Homo sapiens: one gene and its partners. The protein of the gene in region 2 interacts with the protein of the main gene of each other region in a pairwise test. Each region holds a gene or a part of one and is shown on either strand. Other genes may lie near its edges.

The links.
Region 1: the proteins of PRKCI (region 2) and PARD6B interact in binary tests that used the Homo sapiens proteins (3 or more experiments, as listed by UniProt).
Region 3: the proteins of PRKCI (region 2) and NACC1 interact in binary tests that used the Homo sapiens proteins (3 or more experiments, as listed by UniProt).
Region 4: the proteins of PRKCI (region 2) and PARD6G interact in binary tests that used the Homo sapiens proteins (3 or more experiments, as listed by UniProt).

Annotation. Positions count from the first base shown.
Region 1 is NC_000020.11:50,748,577-50,754,275, forward strand, and holds the end of PARD6B (partitioning defective 6 homolog beta), read left to right. Parts: intron 1-1,082; coding exon 1,083-1,912; 3' UTR 1,913-5,165; downstream 5,166-5,699. UniProt on the Homo sapiens protein: Adapter protein involved in asymmetrical cell division and cell polarization processes. Probably involved in formation of epithelial tight junctions.
Region 2 is NC_000003.12:170,302,392-170,306,482, forward strand, and holds the end of PRKCI (protein kinase C iota type), read left to right. Parts: intron 1-648; coding exon 649-736; 3' UTR 737-3,586; downstream 3,587-4,091.
Region 3 is NC_000019.10:13,121,259-13,128,295, forward strand, and holds part of NACC1 (nucleus accumbens-associated protein 1), read left to right. Parts: intron 1-7,037. UniProt on the Homo sapiens protein: Functions as a transcriptional repressor. Seems to function as a transcriptional corepressor in neuronal cells through recruitment of HDAC3 and HDAC4. Contributes to tumor progression, and tumor cell proliferation and survival.
Region 4 is NC_000018.10:80,244,480-80,252,260, reverse strand, and holds the start of PARD6G (partitioning defective 6 homolog gamma), read left to right. Parts: upstream 1-4,746; 5' UTR 4,747-4,912; coding exon 4,913-4,984; intron 4,985-7,781. UniProt on the Homo sapiens protein: Adapter protein involved in asymmetrical cell division and cell polarization processes. May play a role in the formation of epithelial tight junctions. The PARD6-PARD3 complex links GTP-bound Rho small GTPases to atypical protein kinase C proteins.

The DNA of each region.
Region 1 (5,699 bases), on a different chromosome or scaffold from region 2:
GGCTGGAGTGCAGTGATCATAGTGCGCTGCAGACCTGAATCCTGGAGTGAAGCCATCCTCCCATCTCAGCCTCCCAAGTAGCCGGGACTCCAGGCAGACGCTACCTACCACACCTGGCTAATTTTTTTTTACTTTTCATAAAGACAGGGTCTCACGCTGTTGCCCAGGCTGGGCTCAAGTGATCCACTCACCATGGCCTCCCAAAAAAGCACTGGGATTATAGACGTGAGGCACCACGCCCAACCACATTACAAGTTTTTTAAACAAGTGAAGGAAAAATGTATTTTAAGTAACTGGTTTAAAATGATGTTTTAAGGCCGGACACAGTAGCTCTCACCTGTACTCCTAGCACATTGAGAGGCTGAGGCGGGAGGATCTCCTGAGGCCAGGAGTTCAAAACCAGCCTGGGCAACATAGCAAGACCCTATTCAAAAAAAAGTAAAAATACATATATATTTAATGATGTTTAAGAATATGTAAGATCTGGCCAGGTGCGGTGGCTCACGCCTATAATTCCAGCACTTTGGGAGGCCGAGGTGGGTGGATCATGAGGTCAGGAAATCGAGACCATCCTGGCTAACACGGTGAAACCCCATCTGTACTAAAAATACAAAAAGTTAGCCAGGCCTGGTGGCACACACCTGTAGTCCCAGCTACTCGGGAGGGTGAGGCAGGAGAATTGCTTGAACCCGGGAGGCGGAGGTTGCAGTGAGCCGAGGTCACGCCACTGCACTCCAGCCTGGTCGACAGAGCGAGACTCCATCTCAAAAAAAAAAAAAATATGTAAGATCTATCATAGTTTCATTTGCCATATTTAATGTTTAAAAGTGAATGAGCTCTATCAAATTTAACTTCAACATTGGTTTATTTTGTGATGTGTATTTGAGATGGCCACCTAGTGGTTTTTTCTGGTATGGCATTTTACTACTGTACTAGATTATGATCTGATTAGAATAAGCTTATTAGCTAGTTTGTTTATATACCAAATATATTTTGAGTTATCCTTTCTGTACAGATTCAGCTGCAAGTGAATAGATATTTTTACAGCATTTCTATAATTATTTTGTTTTATTTTTAAACAGAAGAAGCAGACTACAGTGCCTTTGGTACAGACACGCTAATAAAGAAGAAGAATGTTTTAACCAACGTATTGCGTCCTGACAACCATAGAAAAAAGCCACATATAGTCATTAGTATGCCCCAAGACTTTAGACCTGTGTCTTCTATTATAGACGTGGATATTCTCCCAGAAACGCATCGTAGGGTACGTCTTTACAAATACGGCACGGAGAAACCCCTAGGATTCTACATCCGGGATGGCTCCAGTGTCAGGGTAACACCACATGGCTTAGAAAAGGTTCCAGGGATCTTTATATCCAGGCTTGTCCCAGGAGGTCTGGCTCAAAGTACAGGACTATTAGCTGTTAATGATGAAGTTTTAGAAGTTAATGGCATAGAAGTTTCAGGGAAGAGCCTTGATCAAGTAACAGACATGATGATTGCAAATAGCCGTAACCTCATCATAACAGTGAGACCGGCAAACCAGAGGAATAATGTTGTGAGGAACAGTCGGACTTCTGGCAGTTCCGGTCAGTCTACTGATAACAGCCTTCTTGGCTACCCACAGCAGATTGAACCAAGCTTTGAGCCAGAGGATGAAGACAGCGAAGAAGATGACATTATCATTGAAGACAATGGAGTGCCACAGCAGATTCCAAAAGCTGTTCCTAATACTGAGAGCCTGGAGTCATTAACACAGATAGAGCTAAGCTTTGAGTCTGGACAGAATGGCTTTATTCCCTCTAATGAAGTGAGCTTAGCAGCCATAGCAAGCAGCTCAAACACGGAATTTGAAACACATGCTCCAGATCAAAAACTCTTAGAAGAAGATGGAACAATCATAACATTATGAAACCGTGGTTTGAATGTTTTCAGAGTGAGGATGCCATGAGGACTTGTACATTTGGCTAGTTTAAAAGCATATATACCTCTGACCAGTGACGTGGAATAGGCATGAGACGAGTAACGTTGCAAGCTTACAATATTATTAAAGTAGTAGTTTGATAATTGTTAATATAAACTTTGGTGGATCAGAGGTGAATTTAAGTCCAAAACAAAGGGGCCTTTGCTGATGAAGTTACGTGCTTTTGCTGTTTTGTCTGTGGAGAATCAGATGTTAAAGCACATTCTTGGAACTATGTGAGAAGACTAGATCATTTCTGTTGGAAGTGGTTGCATATTTAACCTGCTGTGCAGAGCCCAGTTAATTTTTCCTTTAACTGTATTTTTAAAATTCTAATGTGAAGTCTGATTCTCTCTTGTGGTACATTGGGGACCTCAGCTCTTAAAGGTCTCATGTTCCCAATATTTTATTTTGATTTTTTTTTTTTTTTTTTTTTTTTTTTTTTTTAGTGACTGGGTCTCACTCTGTTGCCCACACTGGAATGCAGTGGCATGATCACAGCTCTCTGCAGCCTCAATCCCCTGGGCTCAAGCAGTCCTCCCACCTCAGCCTCCTGAGTAGCTGGGACCATAGGCACATACCACCACATCTGTCTACTTTTTGTATTTTTTGTAGAGACAGGGTTTCGCCATGTTGCCCAAGTTGGTCTTGAACTCCTGGGCTTAAGCAGTCCTGCCTCGGCTTCCCAAAATGCTAGGATTAGAGCCACCATGCCCAGCCTATTTTGATTTTTGTTTTTTTATGTTCCTTTCTAATAAATTGTAACAAATGATGTTCTCAAGTACATTTCCAGTTTCTTTTCTTTTCTTTCTTTTTTTTTTTTTTTTTTTTTTTGAGATGGAGTCTCGCTCTATCGCCCAGGCTGGAGTGCAGTGGCGCGATCTTGGCTCACTGCAAGCTCTACCTCCTGGGTTCACACCATTCTCCTGCCTCAGCCTCCCAAGTAGCTGGGACTACAGGCGCCTGCCACCATGCCTGGCTAATTTTTAGTAGAGACGGGGTTTCGCAGTGTTAGCCAGGAAGGTCTCAATCTCCTGACCTCCTGATCCGCCCGCCTCGGCCTCCCAAAGTGCTGGGATTACAGGCGTGAGCCACCGCGCCCAGTTGTGCATTTCTGGTTTCTAAGAATCAAACCACTTGGCTGTTTTTAGGAGTTACTTCCCATGTTATAAAGCTGAGGAAGCTTTTTTTTTTTTTTTTTGAGACAGAGTCTCTGTCACCCAGGCTGGAGTGCAGTGGTGCAATCTCAGCTCCCGGGTTCAAGCAATTCTCCTGCCTCAGCCTTCTGAGTAGCTAAGATTACAGGTGTGCGCCAACACGTCTGGCTTATTTTTTTGTATTTTTAGTAGAGATGGAGTTTCACCATGTTGGTCAGGTGGGTCTCAAACTCCTGACCTCAAGTGATCCGCCCATCTCCTCCCAAAGTGCTGGATTGCAGGCATGAGCGCCTAGCCAGGAAGCTATCTTTTCTTGAGTTATGAAACTTTGCAACAGTTGTTCAAATTGGTGTTTGTCCTTCCTATAGCTTTCATATTTTCAAATTAATTCTGTATGGCTATATAATTTATGTTTTAAAAGGCAATTCTCTTGACTTTGGAAATATGGAAGTCTCTCCTTTAACCTATTCTTGTTCCCATTCCCAGTCTCATTTGAAATCATTCCTTTTATTGTTAGTGTGTGTATTTTTGTTGGTGTGCTTTTAATGCATCCAAGTATGCATCATTTTGGATAAAAAATACATCCAAATTAAGATGTTTTAACACATAGGACAAACTTGTGCACTTTTTATGCCAAAAAAAAAAAAAATTGGGTTTTCCTTCATGGGATTTCTAGAAACACTGCCTACACTTTATGAAAACTACATAGTATTCACCTGTGACAGGTAGAGTTTATCACTATTAATTTTATGAGGCTATTTATTACTTTCCAATGCATCCACTTAGAACAAGCTAAGAGTAAGGCTGCTAACTTTAATTCCTTGCCTGATTTTATTGTACAGTGTGCACAAGCACAATGGTATGCTTGTATATAGAAACTAAAAATACTATGAAGTACATAAGTTCCCTATGGCTTATGGAGAGTTATTTATTAATTAACTTTATGGTAGGGCTAGTATGAATACCTTTTTAACAATTGTGTGCTATTACAACAATGAAGATTCAAATGACTCCGCTTTGAAGGATGTTTTCTCTATATGGTAAAATATATATGAAGAAGTCTTGATTACGTGAAGATCACTTGACTCAGAATACTTCAATGTATTTTGTTCACATTACCACTAAGCATATTATCAGTAAACTATTAACTGACTGCACATTATGTAATACGTTGTACTTTTTGTTGAATTCACCGAAGTTCTTCCATTTATATGCTATTTTTAATGGCATTCCGGCTTTAACATTCTGTGAGTCTTACAAATTTGACTCTTGAATGGCAAAATAATGTTAGTATGTAGAAGGTTAACTTTCATTTATAATATAAGTGGTGCAGGGGTTCAACATTTTAAGTAAAAATATTTTTACACACTACCTCTCTCTTTTTTTTTTTAAAGTTTTAACATCAGAACTTTTGGGGGAAAAACTACTTCAGGGCTTGACTTTTTGTACAAATTTTAACTGTAAAATACAGATTTATCTTGTACGCATTCATGGAAATGGAAATCAAAGCTGCTATTGCTTTTTATTTTAATTATCCTGTTAAGGGTATCTATCAATGGTATTTTCAAGTAGATCTCTGTTTCTTAAATTATTGGTGAAATAATTGATTACTAGATATATTGTAAAACCAATAGATCCTGGTTATACGATAAAATATCAGCTCATTGGTAGGCTGAATCAATTATTTCAAGTGCACCTTATTAACAAAAGTATCAGTGGATCCAACATAAAATTTTATAGTACTAAATGTCAAGCCTAACTGTGAATTTTGTTCTGTATCTTAAGTAAATTTATGATAATGTTCTCGAGCTATCAACAAAATATATGTACTTTTGTGAGCTATGAATTTTCTAATTAAATTTTACATGCTATAACATGATTTTTACATGAATGATACTTTGTTTATAACTATCAAATGTCAGTATTTTACTACAATTTTATTATAAAGTGTACATTATCACTAAATGAACTTCGATTTTAAAAATCAAATTAGCTTTAGTTGTATATTATTTTTTACAAATAAAGATAGACTTGTATAAAGGCTACTTTCTTGTTTGAAATTATATGAAAAGTTGCCCACAAATACCAGGTGCCCATTATATAAAATAGGTAGGGAGAAAACCCTTGAGTTTTAACAAGATCCTTGCTTCCTTAACTTTTAATTGTTAAAAGATGGACCCCAAATTGTATGTGCACTTTTTGCAACTGTGTATGACCATATGGCTATGGGCTGGATGGTAACTTTTAAAATGTGGTTAATTCTGATAGTGTGAAAGGTTATGCAAGCTATTCACCCAAAGTTATCTTTAAGATTATTTGAAACTAGTTTGTAATGTGACAGCTTATCTTCTGAAATTCAAATTCACTTAGTTATACTTAATTAATATTACCATCTATCTAGTATGGCCTATGTTGATTGAATTCAATTTATACTGAAAAACTTAAAATGTCTGAGAAAAAGGCCAGGCATGGTGGCTCATGCCTGTAATCCCAGCACTTTGGGAGTCTGAGGCAGGCGGATCATGAGGTCAGGAGTTGGAGACCAGCCTGGCCAACATAGTGAAACCCTGTCTCTACTA
Region 2 (4,091 bases):
TCCAGTAGGAATTACCTCCCTTCCTTGAAGGAAGGGACTGTATCCTCTGTAACTTTGTGCTTCTTAGTATGGCATAATACATTTATGTATTAAATATTTGATAGCACTACTCACTGTATATTAAAGTAGAAGCCCAGTGTAACAAAATGCCAACCTCTCCCCTCTCTGTGACCCATGATCTCCCTGCGGTGTTCTCTCCTCATTCCAGGTCTCTCAGTGTACTTGTTCCTATTGCCTTTTCCTTTTGGCTAACTTCTTCTGGGCTACACTATCTAACATCTGGCTGTTGAGGTGACTACTAAATTGAATGCTAATTCAAACCTGGATGTTCACCTGTAACTAGGAATGTTGTTCTGGTCAAAAGTTAAGATTAACTGGAATGGTGACAACTGGTGTCTTTTTTATTCGCAGTCCTCAGTTTTGAACTCCTTTTTGGCTCTAAACTTGCTTGTGGGATTATCGGGGTTTTTTAAATTTTCAGTACTCCATTCTTGATTCGTCTAGAAAATCTGGGGGATTAATCTAAAAATTTATAGATTTCCTTTCAGTACAATTAGCCTAATTACTTGATTTTTAATCTTATTTTACCATTTAAAGGTTGAAGAAATCTTGATTATGATGAAAATAAATTTATTTTTCTTTCAACAGTGACATTGTGAGGAAGATTGATCAGTCTGAATTTGAAGGTTTTGAGTATATCAATCCTCTTTTGATGTCTGCAGAAGAATGTGTCTGATCCTCATTTTTCAACCATGTATTCTACTCATGTTGCCATTTAATGCATGGATAAACTTGCTGCAAGCCTGGATACAATTAACCATTTTATATTTGCCACCTACAAAAAAACACCCAATATCTTCTCTTGTAGACTATATGAATCAATTATTACATCTGTTTTACTATGAAAAAAAAATTAATACTACTAGCTTCCAGACAATCATGTCAAAATTTAGTTGAACTGGTTTTTCAGTTTTTAAAAGGCCTACAGATGAGTAATGAAGTTATCTTTTTTGTTTAAAAAAAAAAAAAACACTGCATTAAAAAAGTATCTGTTGCATTAAGGCACATAGTGGGATTACATCATAAACCTCCCATAATTTTTGTCATTCTGTGTTAAATCATTTCAGGGTTTAATTTTGAAATAAAAGATTAATATAAAATGCAACAACTTTTTATATTACCTATTAGTTTTGGAGTTCTTTATGTTTAAAAATTCAGGTGTAAATTTTATTGCCTTGGATAAATAAATTATTGATCTTTTTTAAGGCAGCAGTTATTAAATTGGTAATAGAAGATGCTGCTTGCTTAGAATTGGGAAATTCGGCTGGGTGCAGTGACTCAATGCCTGTGATCCCAGTACTTTGGGAGGTTGAGGCGGGCAGATCACTTGAGGTCAGGAGTTTGAGATTGGCCTGGTCAACATGGTGAAATCCTGTCTCTACTAAAAATACAAAAATTAGCTGGGCATGGTGGCACATACCTGTAATCCCAGCTACTCGGGAGGCTGAAACAGGAGAATCGCTTGAACCCAGGAGATGGAGTTGGCAGTGAGCCAAGATTAGCCTGGGCAACAGTGAGTGAGACTCGGTCTCAAACAAAAACCAAATTGGGAAATTCTTCTTGAGTTAAAAAAGACACTTTTTATTATGAATCAGATTCCAAATCATTAACTATTTTTGCAAAACTGGCACAAGTGGTTTTTCTTTTTAAGTATATTAACAGGGTAGCTCCTGAGCCTTTCCCTTTATTGGAAACTTTAACTGCAGTGTTAATATATACACTGCAAAAGACCAAGGATGCAGTTGAATGGAAAATTACTCAGTGTATAGAAAGGAAAAAAACCAGAAATTTAAAATAGATACAGAAAAGTACACTGGTAATATTTTTATTTCCTATTGGAGAGTGAATCCCCACAGTTGCTTTTTGTGACTTGATTCAAATGAGGCACTCATTATTGTTACCAAACTTGTAAAAGCATTCCATGTATTCAGTGGAGGCAGAATGTATAATATTTTTTCCTTATAATTTAGCATACAGGAAAAGTATTTATTTTTTAAGTAGGGTATCTTAATTATGCTCATTTCTTCCCCTAAACCACATTATCTATATGATTGGACCCTTTAGTGAAATCAGAAAAATAAAGTAGGCATGAATAAATGTTCAGGACACACACATACACTCACACACATCACAGTATCAGCTCTTTCAGTGAGTTTTTATTAACTAGATAACACATGTAATACATAGTAGAATACATTTCAGAGGCAGAGTTCCTCGGATTATTTTTTATGGATATTAGTGTTCAGCAGCTTATTATTTAAAGGGGTGCCAAATATAGCATCCTTCTGTTGTTTATTTTAAATATATTTTTAATGAAAAGGGACTTAAAAAGTAAACATGATTATCTAAATTACTTAAAATTTTTTAATCTTAGTAAAAATTTTAGGAAAGTTATCTAGTTTAAATTTCAAATGTTTTAAAATTTGTAGGCATTTAATAAATTATCTTTTTTTGGAGGGGTGGATGCTGCATTTCATTGGAAATGTCATTTTTCCAAAGTTTCTAGCTATATACTCTCTTTCCTTCAAATAACATAAGTCTGAAAGCAATGAAAACGTCAAAGGAAAATGTTTATATACATCCACATGTTTATTTAATATGTTTCTCTTAACACCTGAAACTTGTTTTAAAACAAAAAGCAGTATTCACTTCAAATCATAAACTTAGAATTCTGTATCTCATGTCAGAAATATGTTTATGGCCTTGCTTTTAAGTGGTGCTGTTTCCCATAGGGCATTAGTTCTCAGATTTTGGAATGTGAAATAATCACCTAGGAAGTTGGTTTAAAATGCACACTAGTGAGCCCACCTTAGACTTCTTTTGGGGCCTTCGACCTCACTTTGAGAAATACCTTCTTCAGGTTATTCTTTATGTTTGTCCTGTGGTTAAATATTAGAGTATTCATGATAAAACATTTTGAGAAGGGGTAAGCAGTGAGTTATTACCCACAATTTAAAGCAAATTTTGAATGAATCTTTAAGTTAGGTATCTACCTTCCCACCAGCCCCCCAAAAAACCTCTCAGTAGTTTCTTTCAGTGTACAAAATGATGAGCATTTTTCTATGATGAGGTTTTAACCATTATTCAGGGTGGTCTTTTGTTTTTAAATCTTTTTTTAACTAATAAGATTTACGGTGTGTATTTTATACAGAAATGCATTATAAATGTTTTTAATTGTGTTCTGTTTTTTGCAGTCTTTAAGTGCCATGCCAATTGTTCTTATATTCTATAGAAGTTCGCTCAAAATACTCAACAGGGGAATAGGCAGCGGACAGTCAGAATGGTTGGAATTTTGGCTTTCTAAGAAAAACTTTATTTTGCATAAGCATGTGGTCAGATCATTTTGTGCATATGCAGCCTGGATTGGATGTTAAGTAAATGCTTGTTCAGTGCCGGTACATTTACTTAAATCTGTTTTTATTTTTGTCATGTAGAATACTACTGTGGTCATCATAATGTAATCTATTTCTGTACCTTTTTTTTTTTTTTTTACTTTGAAGTCTTTAAATAAAATGTATAATACCCATTGAGAGTGGATCATTTTTCATATGTAGTATGTCAGAAATTTGTATAAGAACAAAGATGCATCAAAATTTGTTCAAGAAAAAGTGAAAATTTCAGAGTTTGGAATTTTGCTGTACTTAAAGCACCATTCTGGTAGAACTGATGCTGTCGTATTTACATTTAATAATGTTACATTTAGCTGGACATAGTGGCTCACACAGCACTTTGGGAGACTGAGGTGGGAGGATCACTTGACCCTAGGAGTTTGAGTTCAGCCTGGGCAATATAGTGAGACCCCATCTCTACATACAGAAAAATAAGAAATTAGCCAGGCATGCCGGCAAAGTGCCTATAGTCCCAGGAGGCTGAGGTGGGAAGACTGCTTGAGCCCAGGAGGTTGTGGCTGCAGTGAACTATGATCATGCCACTGCACTCCAGCTTGGGCAACAAAGTGAGACCCTGTCTCTCAAAAAATATTTAATGTTATATTTATTAATGTAGATATTATTAAAAATTAGGAATTAAAA
Region 3 (7,037 bases), on a different chromosome or scaffold from region 2:
TTTCTTGAGTATGTACCAGTCTTCTTCTGAGTGCTCTAAACATTTTGTCTTCATGAGGGAAGGAGTGGGGGGATGACCCTACTGTGGAGACAGAGACTCTAGTACCATTCACAAGAGAGTGAAGCCCTGTCTCTGGGTCTCCTGGATCTGCCCATCACCCCCAGATGGAAGTTCAGAACCCCTTGGCCTGCATCTAGGGTATTTAAAAAATCTGGCCTCCTGGCCGGGCAGCAGGGAGCCCCAGCAGGTTCTTGAGCTGGGCTTTGAGGAGATGTGAGTTTTGGTCAGCCTTACAGGGTCTATTGAAGGAGTCTGCCTGGAGGCCCGGGGGTTTGGAGAGAGTTTGGGGTTGGCCCAACATTGTCTGACCCTAGATTTCATCAGTGTCATTGCCAGAGCCTGTGTGGAGAGAGGGATCCCATCAGGCTTGGTGGGGCATATTGCTTTTGGGATGGTGGTGAGCCACCGGGGCTGGAAAACATGAGTCAGTGTTCATGCCACTCTGCGTCCTCAGATCCTCCGTGCCCCTCGTTTCTCCTCCTAGGTTGCTCTCAGCACTTGTACACACTCGAACTCATTTAAGCCCGTGGCTAGCAGGTCCTGCCTGTTATCATCATTTGACACACAAGGCAACTGAGGCACCCTAGTCCTTCCTTCACACAAGCTGCAAAGTGGTCTGGCTACCACCCCTGTGCCGCCTTCCAGCCACTTTCATGTTCCTCGTGTCTGCATTTGCTCCTCAGTCCTCTCAGCCGCTACTGCCTTCCCCTAGAGAACCCTCTGGGCCGCATGAGGTGGGGCCGGGAGGTGGGACTGGGCCTGCTTGCACATTAGGTGGGGTGAGGACCAGCCGAGCCGGCAGAGGTGACGTGTCTTAGGTTGTGATCTGTGTGTGGTTGTGGTCATGTCCCTCCAGCCTTCTCATGTGCTGCCTCCTTGGCGAAGGTCTCAGTTCTTAGAGACCTGTGCGTCTTCTCTGAGGGCTTTGACTGTGTCCAGTTCGTGGTTTCTAAATCGAGCAAAGGGAGAGGGTAGGTAAGGGTGAGCAGACACGGTCTAGTAGAGAGTGAAATTTCACACTTAGCACCACCCCTGTCTCAGCCATGAGACTCTGGGCAAAGGTCTTTACCTCTGAGCCTCAGTGTCCTCCTCTGATAAGGAGTGACAAGTGGGCACAACTATACTGCTGTGATTCGCAACTGGGTACAGTCCTACCTCCGGGGACACTTGGGGAATGTCTGGGGACATTTTTGGTTGCCCCTGCCGGGGGGGGGGGGGTGTGCTGCTGGCATCTAGTGGGTTTATAGGCCAGGGATGCGGTTCAACATCAGACAGTGTGTAGGGCAGCCCCCACCACAAAGAATGATTGACGCAAATGCAGTGGCTGGGTGGGGAATCTCCACTGTCTGGTTATCATGAGGTTTGCGGGAGAGGTTGGCGTCTGGGGTGTGAGTGGACAGTGCTGTGAAGGCTCTGGGGAAAACCCCAGCGATCACTGCCTGTTAATCCCATGAAATGTGCGAGGTCTGGGAGATGGTGAGAGGCATAAGATGTCTTCTACTCCCAGGGAGTTTGCGGCCCAGCACGGGGCCAGGGGATACGACTAACAGCAGCTGGCATTCATGAGCACCGACTACGGGGCGAGCGCCGATCGGCCTGTGTTCTTTGGTTGTTTAATCCTTGAAATAGCCTTGTGAGGTGGCTGCTGCTGTCAGCCCATTTTCTAGATGGGAGACTGATATGGGGGGTGAGCAGTATTGAGGGTAATTCTGAGTGACAAGCTCTATAAGGGATTTGAGCCTAGTACAATAGTAGGATTCAAAATCTTAGGTCCTGCGTGGTTCCCTAGCACAGCCCAGCAGGCCCCTCTCCCAGGATGATCCCCATCCCTCCACCCTCCTTTGTGTTAGCGGCACCAGGGTCACCTCAGGGCCTTTGCACTTACTGTTGTTCCCTCCACCCTTGGTTGCCGCCACTGCTGCCCTGTCTTTTGGGTATGATCTGATTACACGCAGGGAGTGGGATGTAACTCCGAAGGGTGGGCTTATGGTTGGAGTTGGTGGGGAGGGAGCGGGCAGGCTGCGAGCTCCATGAGGACGGAGGCAGAGCTTCTGCCAGGCTCTCCAAGGAGCTGGAGCTGCTGCCTGCAAAGGGAGGCCAGATTGCCGAGGGCTGCGAGGAGGAGCGAGTGGGAGGAGGGAGAGGCAGCACGCGGAGACTGCTCATTCCCGGAGATGGTGGTTGCAGGGAGAAGGGGCTAGAGAATAGCTGCAGTTGGGAGGATTGGGAAAGGAAGAATGAAAAGAATGAAGAAGGCCTTCCTTGGGGATTAGAGAGAGGGCACCCCAGACCCTGAGGTGGAGGTCCTCAGACAGGCAGAAGACCCTGTTTCTGGAGAGGACACATCCAGTAGCTCAGGTAAAGAGCCCCAGCTCTGGGCTCGGCCGGTCCGGGGTTCCCGTCTGGTCTCTGCCTTGCTTCTCTGAACACCAGTTTTCCCACCTGTGAAATGGGTCTAGTCACAGCTGCCTCACATTTTTGCCTGATTCGGGAGCCAGACGGCCTGGGTATAAACCTGTGCCTGCCATTCACCAGCTACATGTTCCCCACCTCTGGCTTCACCTCTCTGGGCCTCATTCCCATCCATGAAATGGCAGGCAGGCTCATTTCTTCCTCAGAAACTGTAAAGAAGAGTAAGTTAAATGAGCCTGTCTGAGCCCTGGCCAGGTATGGGCCCAGTCAGTGAGGCTTGAGTAGGGGACACTGTTACTAATCCTATTCCACCATGGATTTAACAATAGTCATTCAGGGAAAGAGATAACGAATTAAATCTGTGGGTGTATAAGAAAAAAAATACAGGCCAGGTGCAGTGGCTCACGCCTGTAATCCCAGCTCTTTGGGAGGCTGAGGTGGGCGGATCACTTGAGGCCAGGAGTTTTGAGACCAGCCTGGCCAACATGGAGAAACCCAGTCTCTACTAAAAATACAAAAATTAGCCAGGCATGGTGGTGTGTGCCTGTAATCCTAGCTACTCAGGAGGCGGAGGCACGAGAATTGCTTGAACCCAGGAGGCGGAGGTTGCAGTTAGCCGAAATCACGCCACTGTACTCCAGCCTGGGCGACAGAGGAAGACTGTCTCAACAAAAAAGAAAAAAAAATACTGATGCAAGATGAGGTCTTGCTGTATTGCCCAGGCTGGTCTCAAACTCCTGGCTTCAAGCGTCTTCCTGCCTCAGCCTCCCGAAGTTCTGGGATTACAGGTAGGAGTCACCGCCCCCCACTGAACAGTTTGTTCTTCACTAACTGTTTTCCTGGACTGCCTTCACATTCAGCCCCTACAGAGGGGTCTTTCTGGTTCTGGGTCAGGCAGGCAACCTGAGTAGCTGCCAGGATCCAGCCACATCCTGCTGAGCTGCATGAAGGACTGTGGGGCTCTCTGGGGCCTTTGTTCCTTGTTACACTTGGAGTTGCTGGTCTCCCTTAACTGGCTTGTAGGTCTTAGCCCATCTGGGCTGCTGTAATAAAATACCTTAGACTGGAAGCCAGGCACATTGCTCATGCCTCTAACCTCAGCATTTAGGAGGCTGAGATGGGAGGATTGCTTGAGCCCAGGAGTTCGAGACCAGCCTGGGCAACATAGTGAGACCTCATCTTTACAAAAAAATTTAATTTTAATTTGTTTTTCACCCGTGACACAGCCCTCAGGAGGTCCTGAGAACATATGTCTCTCGTCTTTGCAAAAAATTGTTTTAATTAGCCGGGCGTGGTGGCACACATCCCTAGTCCCAGCTACTCAGGAGGCTGAGGTGAGAGGATAACTTGAGCCCAGGAGTTTGACGCTATAGTGATCCAAGATTGCACCACTACGCTTCAGCCTGGGTGACAGAGCAAGACCCTGTCTCAAAAAAACAAAACAGACTGGGCCATTGATAAACAACAGAGATGAGCTGCTCATAGTTGTAGAGGGTGGGAAGTCCCATATCACGGTGCTAGCAGATTCCGTGTCTAGTGAGGGCCCATCTCTCATAGATAGCACCTTTTAGGTATCTGCACAGGGTGGCAAGGACAAACAAGCTCCCCCTCTTTTATACGGGCACAGTTCGTATTCATGAGGACAGAGCCCTCCTGACTGAATCAACTCCCGAAGGCCCCACTTTTTTTTTTTTTTTTTTTTTTGGTGAGACGGAGATTTACTCTTGTTGCCCAGGCTGGAGTGCAGTGGTGCGATCTTGACTCACCGCATCCTCCGCCTCCCAGGTTCAAGCGATTCTCCTGCCTCAGCCTCCCAAGTAGCTGGGATTACAGGCATGTGTCAGCATGCCAGGCTAATTTTGTATTTTTAGTAGAGACGGGGTTTCACTGTGTTGCCCAGGCTGATCTCGAACTCCTGATCTCAGGTAATCCGCCTGTCTCTGCCTCCCAAAGTGCTGGGATTACAGGCGTGAGCCACTGCACCCAGCCCTTTTTAAATTTTTGATCAACAACTTCTTTTTTATTTTGAGATGGAGTCTTGCTCTGTTGCCCAGCCTAGAGTGCAGTGGCGTGATCTTGGCTCGCTGCAACTTCCACCTCCTAGGTTCAAGCAATTCTGCCTCAGCCTACCTAATAGCTGGGATTACAGGCGTGCACCACTGCGCCCAGCTAATTTTTGTATTTTTAGTAGAGATGGGGTTTCACCATATTGGCCAGGCTAGTCTCCAACTCCTGACCTCAGGTGATCCGCCCACCTCGGCCTCCCAAAGTGCTGAGATTACAGGCGTGAACCACCATACCTGGCTGAAAGGCCTAACTTTTTTTTTTTTTTTAGACGGAGTCTTGCTCTGTCACCAGGCTGGAGTGCATTGGCCCGATCTCGGCTCACCGCAACCTTCGCCTCCTGAGTTCAAGCGATTCTCCTGCCTCAGCCTCCCGAGTAGCTGGGATTACAGGCACGTACCACTGTGCCTGGCTAATTTTTTGTATTTTTAGTAGAGATGGGGTTTCACCATGTTAGCCAGGATGGTCTCTATCTCCTGACCTCGTGACCTCGTGATCCGCCCTCCTCAGCCTCCCAAAGTGCTGGGGTTACAGGCGTGAGTCACCGTGCCCAGCCAGCCCCACTTCTTAATACCACTACATTGGAGATAGGCTTTAGCATGTGAATTTTGGGAAGAGGCAAACATTCAGACCATAGCATCTGTCGACGGCCATGTCACAGCTTCCCTGGAAAGACATCAGGAAAGGACTGTGCCTTTGACAGTCTCTCACAGGCCCATGCTGGCTGGGGAATTCCTCAGCTCTCTTCCCTAAGAGCTGACAGTTACTACTCCCAGGAATCATCCTGCCAGCCCCCTTCCTGCAGATGGCAGGATCCACCGGCAGTGTGAGCAATTCGTCAGGTAACACTGCGGTCTCAATAGGCCCCTGACTGCTGGCTACCCACCTTGGCAGCTGTCAAAGGAGGTCGTCTGTCTGCCCAGCCACAGATAATGCTTCTGAGCCCTATTCCTGTTTGAGCCACGTTAATGTGGAACAAAACAGGGAGTTAGGTTAGGAGGAATGGAAGTAATTCTTTGTTCATTTTTTCCACGAAGGACTGTGAGCACCCACTGTGTACCTGGCCAGGTCCTAGGGGTAGAGGACACAACAGGGATCTACACAGGCAAACTCCCTGCCCCAGGGAAACTGACATGAAGCCCCAAAAAATGCCCAGTTTGGCAGGGGTGGTGGCTCGCACCTGTAGTCCGAGCACTTTGGGAGGCCAAGGCAGGAGGACCACTTGAGCCCAGGAGTTTGAGACCAGCCTGGGCAACATTAGGGAGACCTCGTCTCTATTACTAAAAAATGCACAAATAAATAATTTTTTTTTAGAAAAAGAAAAATGGCCAGCTTGCTAAATAAATCATAGGAACTCCCAAGAAGGATAAGTCAAGCAGGGAGAATCAAGCCAGGGAGTTAGTGTCGGGAAGGGCTTTGTTGGTCAGACGCAGTGGCTCATGCCTATAATCGCAGGGTTTTGTGAGGCTGTGGCAGGAGGAACACTCAGCTGGGAGTTGGAGACCAGCCCAGGCAATATAGTGAGATCACGTCTCTACCAAAAAAAAAAAAAAAAAAAAGCATACATATACATATACTTTTTTTTTTTTTTTTTTTTTTTTTTTTTCGGTTAACTGGATGGGCCGGGTGCCGTGGCTCACGCCTGTAATCCCAGCACTTTGGGAGGTGGGCGGATCACTTGAGGTCAGGAGTTCAAGACCAGCCTGGCCAACATGGTGAAACCCCATCTCTACTAAAAATAGAAAAATTAGCCAGGCATGGTGGTGGTTACCTTTAATCCCAGCTACTCAGGAGGCTGAGACAGGAGAATCGCTTGAACGATTCTTGCAGTGAGCCGAGATCCCACCACTGCACTCCAGCCTGGGCGACAGAGCGAGACTCTGCCTCAAAAAAAAAAAGAAAAAAAAAAATTAGCTGGATGTAGCTCCTGTGGTCCCAGCTATTTGGGAAGCTGAGGTGGGAGGATTGCTTGAGCCCAGGAGTTTGAGGCTGAAGTGAGCTATGATGGTGCCACTGTACTCCAGCCTGGGTGACAGAGCAAGGCCCTGTCTCCAAAAGCAAAAGAGTAGAGAAAGGGCTTTATGTGACCAGGGAGAGTATGAAGAGCTATGGCTGTCCCATTCCCATTCTAGTAGGTCCGAGAGCAAGCAGGGCCAGACTGCCAGGGGCCCCAATAAAGCATTGTAGGGGCCCAGGCAGTGTCACTTGGGGCCAAGGTAGTACAAAGTGGTTTTGAAGGAGTTGAAGATGAATCCAAGGATCTGAATGAGGAGGGCCAGAGCTGGTGAAGCTACGGCATTCACAGGTTTTGGGAAGGACTGGAGCCAGGTCCTGAAATTGTTGAGTGGAGGTGTCTGGGGTGTGTGCGAGTCTGGCATTCACAGGGAAGTCCGGGCCAAAGACTCCAGTGGGGGAGGCATCAGTGAATAGATGGTGCTTCAGGCCTGTCTTAGTCAGCTCAAGCTGCCACACAACAAAATATCACAGACTGGGTGGCTTAA
Region 4 (7,781 bases), on a different chromosome or scaffold from region 2:
GTGGCTGAAAACTGACCACGCTTTTCTGCCATAAAATCACATTCTGATACATTCACCAAGTCAGTGAAAAGCTTTACGGACTGACTCTTTTTAAAACAGATCCTGAGACTCTAATCCATGCTTAGTGTAATACTTGGAACAAAGACTGTGCTTCATGTTCTAGGTGCTTTTATTTGTATTTTGTAAAAGTGTCCCAGAGTTTTAATGCAAAGTCAGAGACAGCTGCGTAAGGTTTACCACCTGCCTTTTGTCTTCCACCTGGGGGTGGACATGCAGGTCACACCGCAAGCTGGTTGAGGAGAGAGCCCTTTGCACCAATCTAGGGGATGCAACCAGGGCCACTTTGTAGGATGTGGGCAGATGGCTCTGGAATGCAGGGAATTCATTCTATTCTGGCCAACGGTGCCATCTGCTGAAAGAGCTACTGGTAAGTCAATTTAGGCATGAAGCTTCCATTGAGAGTCAAGATATTACTGCATCAAAAAGGCAGAAGAGGCTAGACACAGTGGCTCACACCTATAATCCCAGCACTTTGGGAGGCCGAGGCGAGTGGATCACCTGAGGTCAGGAATTCGAGATCAGCATGGACAACATGGTGAAACCCTGTCTCTACTAAAAATGCAAAATTAGCCGGGCGTCGTGGCACATGACTATAGTCCTAGCTATTTGGGAGGCTGAGGCAGGAGAATCGCTTGAACTCGGAAGGCGGAGGTTTCAGTGGGCCAAGATCGCGCCATTGCACCCCAGCCTGGGCAACAAGAATGAAACTCCATCTCAAAAATGAAAATTTTTAAAAAAGGCAGAAGAGGCCTCTTTGAGCAGGGGAAGAGTAAAGGGTAAAAAGAAGGGATGCCTTTATATGAGAATCAGGTGATAATGAGGCATAACTACTCTGCCATTTCCTTATTTCAATCGAATATCAGTTCTTTGCCTGCCTCATCCGAAAATATATTAGAATGCATTGCAAATGCAACAGCCTGCTGGTTCAAATATTACAGCGATGCTTTCCTATTACCCAACGAAATTATCTTAGAGAATGTTTTCTTAGAACATATACATCAGCAACAAATGTTCAATCATAAAAGAGCCTGCTCTCATCATAAAAGAGCCTGCTCTCATCATAAAAGAACCTGCTCTCATCTTTTTTTCAACAGGGTCTCACTCTGCTATGCCCTGGAGTGCAGTGGCATGATCACAGCTCACCACACACTCGACCTTCCAGTCTCAAGAAATCCTCCCACCTCAGCCTCCCCAGTCTCAAACAATCTGCCCCTCTTGGCCTTCCAAAGTGCTAGGATTACAGGCATGAGCCACTGCAGAGGGGCCTTCCAAAGTGCTAGGATTACAGGCATGAGCCACTGCAGAGGGGCCTTCCAAAGTGCTAGGATTACAGGCTTGAGCTACTGCACCCAGTCAAGGAATACATTTTACTGGGTCCACAACATACTTCCTTTTTGCTCCTGATGGTTCAGTTATTAGATGGGTTCTTAGAAGCCGTGATTTGAGGAAGATTTAACCCCTACCCATTCCTATTTTCTCTCTCATTTTCTGTCTGAAACAAGTCAGCCTCTCAGAGGCTCCCATGACCCCCAGTTGTGTGAAAAGGCAGGCTATCAGGCCAGGATCTGAGGAGTCTTTTCTCTCTCTCCTTTCTTTTCTCTTTCTTTCTTCTTTTCCTTTTCCTCCCCCACTCCCTTCTTTTTGCTTAGATGAGGTCTCTCTCTGTCACCCAGGCTGGAGTGCAGTGGCACAATCATAGCCCACTGCAGCCTCGACCTCCTGGGCTCAAGCAATTCTCCCACCTTGGCCGCCTGAGTAGCTGGGACTATAGGTGTGTCCCACCATGCCCAGCTAATTTTTTTTTTTTTTTGGAGAGACAGGGTTTCACCATGTTGCCTAGGCTAGTCTCAAACTCCTGGCCTCAAGCAATCCTCCAGCCTCAGCCTCCCAGTGTGTTGGGATTACAGGTGTGAGCCACTGTGTCTGGTAGGAGAGGGCTTTTGTTTTTTCCAATCTGGCTGCTGTACTGTGTAAAAGCCTTTCCAGCTGAAGGCTCAGTTAATTTTTTTTTGGTCTATACCCGCCTGAACCTAGAGCTCAAAGCCCTAGCAAATCCAGTTCAAGTCTCAGCTGGAAACTCAAGCTCCACACGCAACAGCAAGCTTTCCCAGCCTTTCCTCCTGCTTTTGCCTGCAGATCATGCCAATCAAGAACTGTGGAGCAACAGATGATTAAGATAAAGGAGCAGCACCTCTCAAACTTCAGTGTGGACATGAATCACCTGGGGATCTTGTTCAAGTGCGGATTCTGATTCAGTGGGTCTGGGTGGGGTATTGCTAACAAGTGCCAGGTGGAGCAGATTTTGGGCCTTACACCACACTCTGAGCCACAGGCATTGACAAAGTGATCTCACTCTCATCAACCTGGTCCAGAGCCAAGTCTAGGGCTACTTGAAATTCCGTAGCCTTCCAGCCTTTCCTTTAAAAGGCGTCTTCCCACTCCAAAGCCCCGAGCTTACTGGGTGGACCCCACTCCCACCTTCATTGCCTACAGTGCTGTTCATTCCTCCACATACTCCTTTGTCCCTGCATTTCTTAAAATGTGACAGTTGGAGCTCCTCCCTCAGGATATTACTGAGCCTCTTCTAACCACAAAACAATGTTGCCCACTGTAATGGGCAACTTGCAGTCAGCATTGAGCCTGTGACTTTTCTCAAATCCAAAGATTTGCATTCAGTTTAGGAAATTTCCCTTGAAAGAATGGCAGCACCTCTGTCCACAGTCTGCTTGCCAAGTGTGTGTCTCTTGGCATTTTTTGTTTGCTTGCTTACTTACTGCGCACGTGCCTTGTTTTGGAACTCTGTTTACATATCCGGTCCTCTGGCCAGCCTAGCATTTCTCTAAAGGGCAGTGATTATAACTCAGTGGCTTTGTAATGGTACTCCCTGGCACTAAGTCCCAGCATATAACAGGGTAAATACTTAGCAAAAATAAAGGAAAATCAGATTTCTATGAAAGTAATTTGTGTTAAAGGCTTTAGAGGTGTGTAGTTTGTGGCCTAGTAGTTCTAATTTTAGAAGTCCATTTAAAACATTGAATATAAGCAAATTTTTAAAACAGTGTGATATAAAAGCTTAACAGTGGAAACATCTTAAATATCCAACAATAATGAAATGATTATAAATTATGCCTATATTCATATAAGCACCTTTTAGAAAACATCTTCTCTAAGAACATTTAATAAAACCGTTCTGGCCGAGTATAGTGGCTCACATCTGGGAGGCAGAGGTGGAAGCATTGCTTGAGGCCAGGAGTTTGAGACAAGCCTGGACAACATAAAGAGACCCCCATCTTTACAAAAAACAAAAATAAAAATAAAATTAGTCTGTGTGGTGGCACAAATCTGTGGTCCTCAAGAGGCTGAGGTGGAAGGATTGCTTGAGCCAAGGAGTTTGAGGCTGCAGTGAGCTGTGATTATGGCATTGCACTACAACATGGGCGACATAGCAAGATCCTGTTTTTAGAAGAAGAAAAAGTTCATTATATAGCACAAGGTGAAAAGTGCAAGTTGTAAAACGAGATAAACAGCATGGTCACAACTTTGTAAAATATACAAATATATATGCAGAAAAATAAGTGAAAATAAAATACACCAAAGGTTAATACAGTTGATTGCTGAGTAGCATGACTACAGGTAATTTTTACAGGTTTTTTCACTTCTTTATATTCTGCAGGTTTCTTTTGCAATGAATGTATGGTGAGATTTATAATTATATGGCTTGTAGATTACAATTCATAGTATACTTCAAAATGATTTTTTAAAAACTGTCTTGTCTTCTGAACTTCATCACAAATTCCTCAAGGGCAAGGATTGTATCTTTGGTTTCAGCAAGCCCGTTTCAGAGGCCTCTTGATTGGTAAATATTCATTGATGCTGCTAGTAATTGATTCTTTGTCTTAACAGGTTCTCTTTTTCTAGCTGCCTTAGAAAAAGTCTCCTTTCGCATCAGGCAGGTGCTTCTGATCCTCTCCCTAGAGATAGGCTATCTAATAAAGCCCTCTAAGCCTTTATTTTTATTTTTTATTTTTTGAGACGGAGTCTCGCTCTGCCTCCCGGGCTGGAGTACAGTGATGCGATCTCGGCTCACTGCAGCCTCCGCCTCCCGGGTTCAAGCGATTCTCCTGTCTCAGCCTCCCCATTAGCTGGGATTACAGGCACCCCCCCCACCACACCCGGCTAATTTTGTATTTTTAGTAGAGATAGTGTTTCACCGTATTGGCCAGGCTGCTCTAAGCCTATTTGATAAAACCCTTCTCCCAGGCCATCAGCAACTTGACAATTAGTACTGACAGGTGATGCCTTTTGGGATCAGGTCTCCAGTGGTTCTCGTTAGCATTCTTCACTTGAATATTACCCAAAACAATGGCAAAAATCAACCCCTATCCTAGGTTGCTCGGTGGAGGCAATCAAAACGAGACGCCTTGGGCTGGCCGCGATGCTCCTTTCCCCAGGCTCTGGGATTGTGGACAGGAGGGCGCGCACCCACTGGCGATCCGACGCGGAGCTGCAGCGTGGGGGCGTGGTGTGGCGGGTCCTCCGGAGCGCGGGGCGGGGCTGTGGGCGGGGATATGGGCGGGTCCTCCGGGGCTCGGGGGCGGGGCGGGGCGCGGGCGCGGGCGCCGGGAGGTGGGGCGGCGCGCGCCGGCGTCCCCCGCGCTCCTCCCGCGCGCGGCCCCTGGAGTCCCTGAGGCGCGCGGCCAGCCCAGCTCGGGCCCGCAGCACCGGGAGCAGCCCGCCGGCCAAGCGAGCGCGGGCCGGGGCCGGGGCCGGGGCCTGGGGGCGCCGCCCCCGGGAGTCTTTCTGCGGCCCCTGAGGAGCGAGGGCGACGGCGAGGCTGACCGGGGCCGAAACCATGAACCGAAGTTTTCACAAGTCTCAGACCTTGCGATTCTACGATTGCAGCGCAGTGGAAGTCAAGAGCAAGGTAAGCCCCCCGCCCGCCCCGGCGGCCCTGCGCCCAGTCTCCTGGCTAATGAATGGGGCGCCCCGCGGAGGGGGACTGGGGCGGCGTGGAGGCGACAGGCGCCGGCGACAACTTTCCAGTTCGGGCGCCGCGCGCCGCTCCGCGGGACGCGCACTGGGGACCCCGGCCGTCCTTCCCGCCCCCCGCGCGGACACAAAGCCCGGCAGCCGCGGCGCTCAGAGGGCCGAGGGCCATCGGACAGTCCGGGCAGACTCTGGACCCGCTCCGCGGGAGCTGCTCTTTTGTTCCACGAGTGAGAGGCGATCGGGGCGCGCCACACATTGGAGGGGAGGGCGGCCTTTCCGGGGCGAGTTGAGGGCCAGGGGCTGCTCGGATTCGGGGCCGTGGGGGGGCTCTGGGGGCCCGGGCCGTGGGATGGCCCTGGCCAAGGCGCCTTCAAGGCTGCAAAGGAGGCTTGTTACCTGCCAGGAGGAGACTTGCCGCCGGCTCCGAGCCCGGCGTCCCCCACCCGCTCGGTACCAAACATCTAGGCACCAGGCGCGCTCCCCCGCGCAGACCCAGAGCACGCACCCGGCTCTCCCCCGGCCCAGACCCAGACCACGCCTCCCCGGGCGCGTCCCCGGGCCAGACACCCCACCCCACCCCCACGGGCGCGCCCCCACCCCAGACTCCCCCACCTCCGGACGCGCCCCCGCCCCAGACCCAGCCCACTCCCCCGGGCGCGCCCCCGGCTCAGACCCAGACCCCTCCCGAGCGCGCCCCCGGATCAGACCCGTACCCAGACCACCCCCACGGGCGTGCCCGGCCCCTCCCGCTGCCTGCGCCCGGGCGGAGCGTGCCCGAACTTGCGGGTCGCGATGCGCGTCTGGGTAATTGGCTGGTAGGATCTGGCGCTTCTGCCCTTTGCGGGGGTGGTTCCTTCGCCGCAGATGCTATTGTTTGTGAGGGTCTCCTTGGTGGACCCCGCGGGCTGAGGAGGTGCTGCAGTTGTTCGGGGTCCTGCGGGAGGGGGCCCCTCGAGTCTTTCGCTGGCTACTCTCTGGGAGTTGAGCGGCCCTTTCGCCCTTTCTTTCTTCGCACCCCGGTTCTCAGAGTTGTGGGAAAGGCTCCTAACGGCGGAGTGGGAGCCCGCACCCCTAACTGTGTGCCTATCTTGGGCGCAGGGCGGGTGTTCCCTCCCCTGTCTCTGGGGAGGCAAGTCCAACAGCCCCCTCTCGCTGTGCTGCTCTGACCTTTGGAGTAGGATTTCCAGGGTGTCTGCAGAGGATTGAGGCGGGGAGGTGTCCCAGCAACAGCATGGCCGCCTCTCCAGCCTGCTACAGTGAGTTGCAGGATCCTTCTCTGCTTAGGGGTACACGGTCTTTTAATGAATCCCTCATTTATCATAAGATCCTGTCCTTACCCTTGCCCCATGACCTCGGCCCCACACCCATCTTCTCTGGAGCACAGAAGTGCCCCCAGCTCCCCCAAATCAAGTGTGCCAGCTGTGGGTTAGGTGAGGGGAAGAGCCCACAAGCATGGGCGGGAGGTTTCTTTAGCTCAGTGGGAACACAGCTCTCTGGAGCTGCACTATCTAGTACAGTAGACAATAAGCACGTGTGGTATGTAATCTTATTTAACTTTTTATTTTGAGATTATTGTACATTCACAAGTAGCTGTGAGAGAATATAGAGGTCTGTGTTCTCAGCCTCTGAGCCTTTGCTCAGCCTCCCTGATGGTGGCATCTCGTGTGACTAGCACACTGTCGTATCCTGGACACAGACCTTAGCGGGTCTCAGCAGCGTGACACACTCATTCGTGTACGCCTAGGTCTGTGCGGTGGTGTGACCACCAACACAATCAAGGTGCAGAGCAGTTTTCCCCTTTCATCCTAGGATCCTTCCTGCTGCCCTTCACAGCAGCTGTTTAACCAGGGAGGACTGGTTGGTTAACATGAGCGTTAAAGACTCACTTCTGTGCTCATTTGCCCTCTGCAGAGGGTGGCTGCCTCCTCACACACATAGCTCCAGAGAATCAGAGGCCTCAACCAGGCACAGGGTAGGTCTGGAGGACATGCCCTCACCAGGCCTCATCCTGCAGTCCTGGGCTGCTGGCACTACAGAGGCTGCCTCTGCCTTCCCTGGGGTGTCAGCCTGCCTGCTTCTGCCAGCTCCACTTGGCAAAGAAGGGGTGCTGCCTTACACCCCAAGCATGGATTCAAGTTCAGATGCAGCAGATGCTTGTCTGGAGGTGAGTGGCAGCGCCAGAGTTTTGGTTGAACTGGGGTGTCCTTGGAAGGGCCACACTGACCTGGGCCTTACTGGACTTGCTGTTGTGCCCTCCCCACCGTGATGGGGCTGAACTTGCTGCTTGTCCAGAGGGTCCGTGTGGCTCTTCCTTCTGTGCACAGCTTCCCACTTACCCACTTTATGGTTAATATTTGTTACTGTAGCATCTATCTCCATAGGGAGCCGCTGTTGTCAAAATAACAGCAAAGCCTTATGACAACCTCAATGTAGCACCATAACACCATGGTTTGGTTTGTGGGGAAAATGGCGTCTGGGGAGCTGAGTCCAGCCTGGGTTCTGCCACCTACTGCATTTGTGAGCTTTTGGGCAAGTCATTTAACTTTTCCAAGCATCGGTTATTTCATCTGTAAAATGGGCATGATACCTTTTCTGCTTACCTATCAAGATGAAATGCATTGAATACAAGAGCGCTTTGAGTTAAATACTGCAGGTCAGAATTCTTTGGCATTTTAAGATATTGGGTTGGAAAACTGCCTTAGGTTCTCTCAGAATTTTTGTCATTCACCATT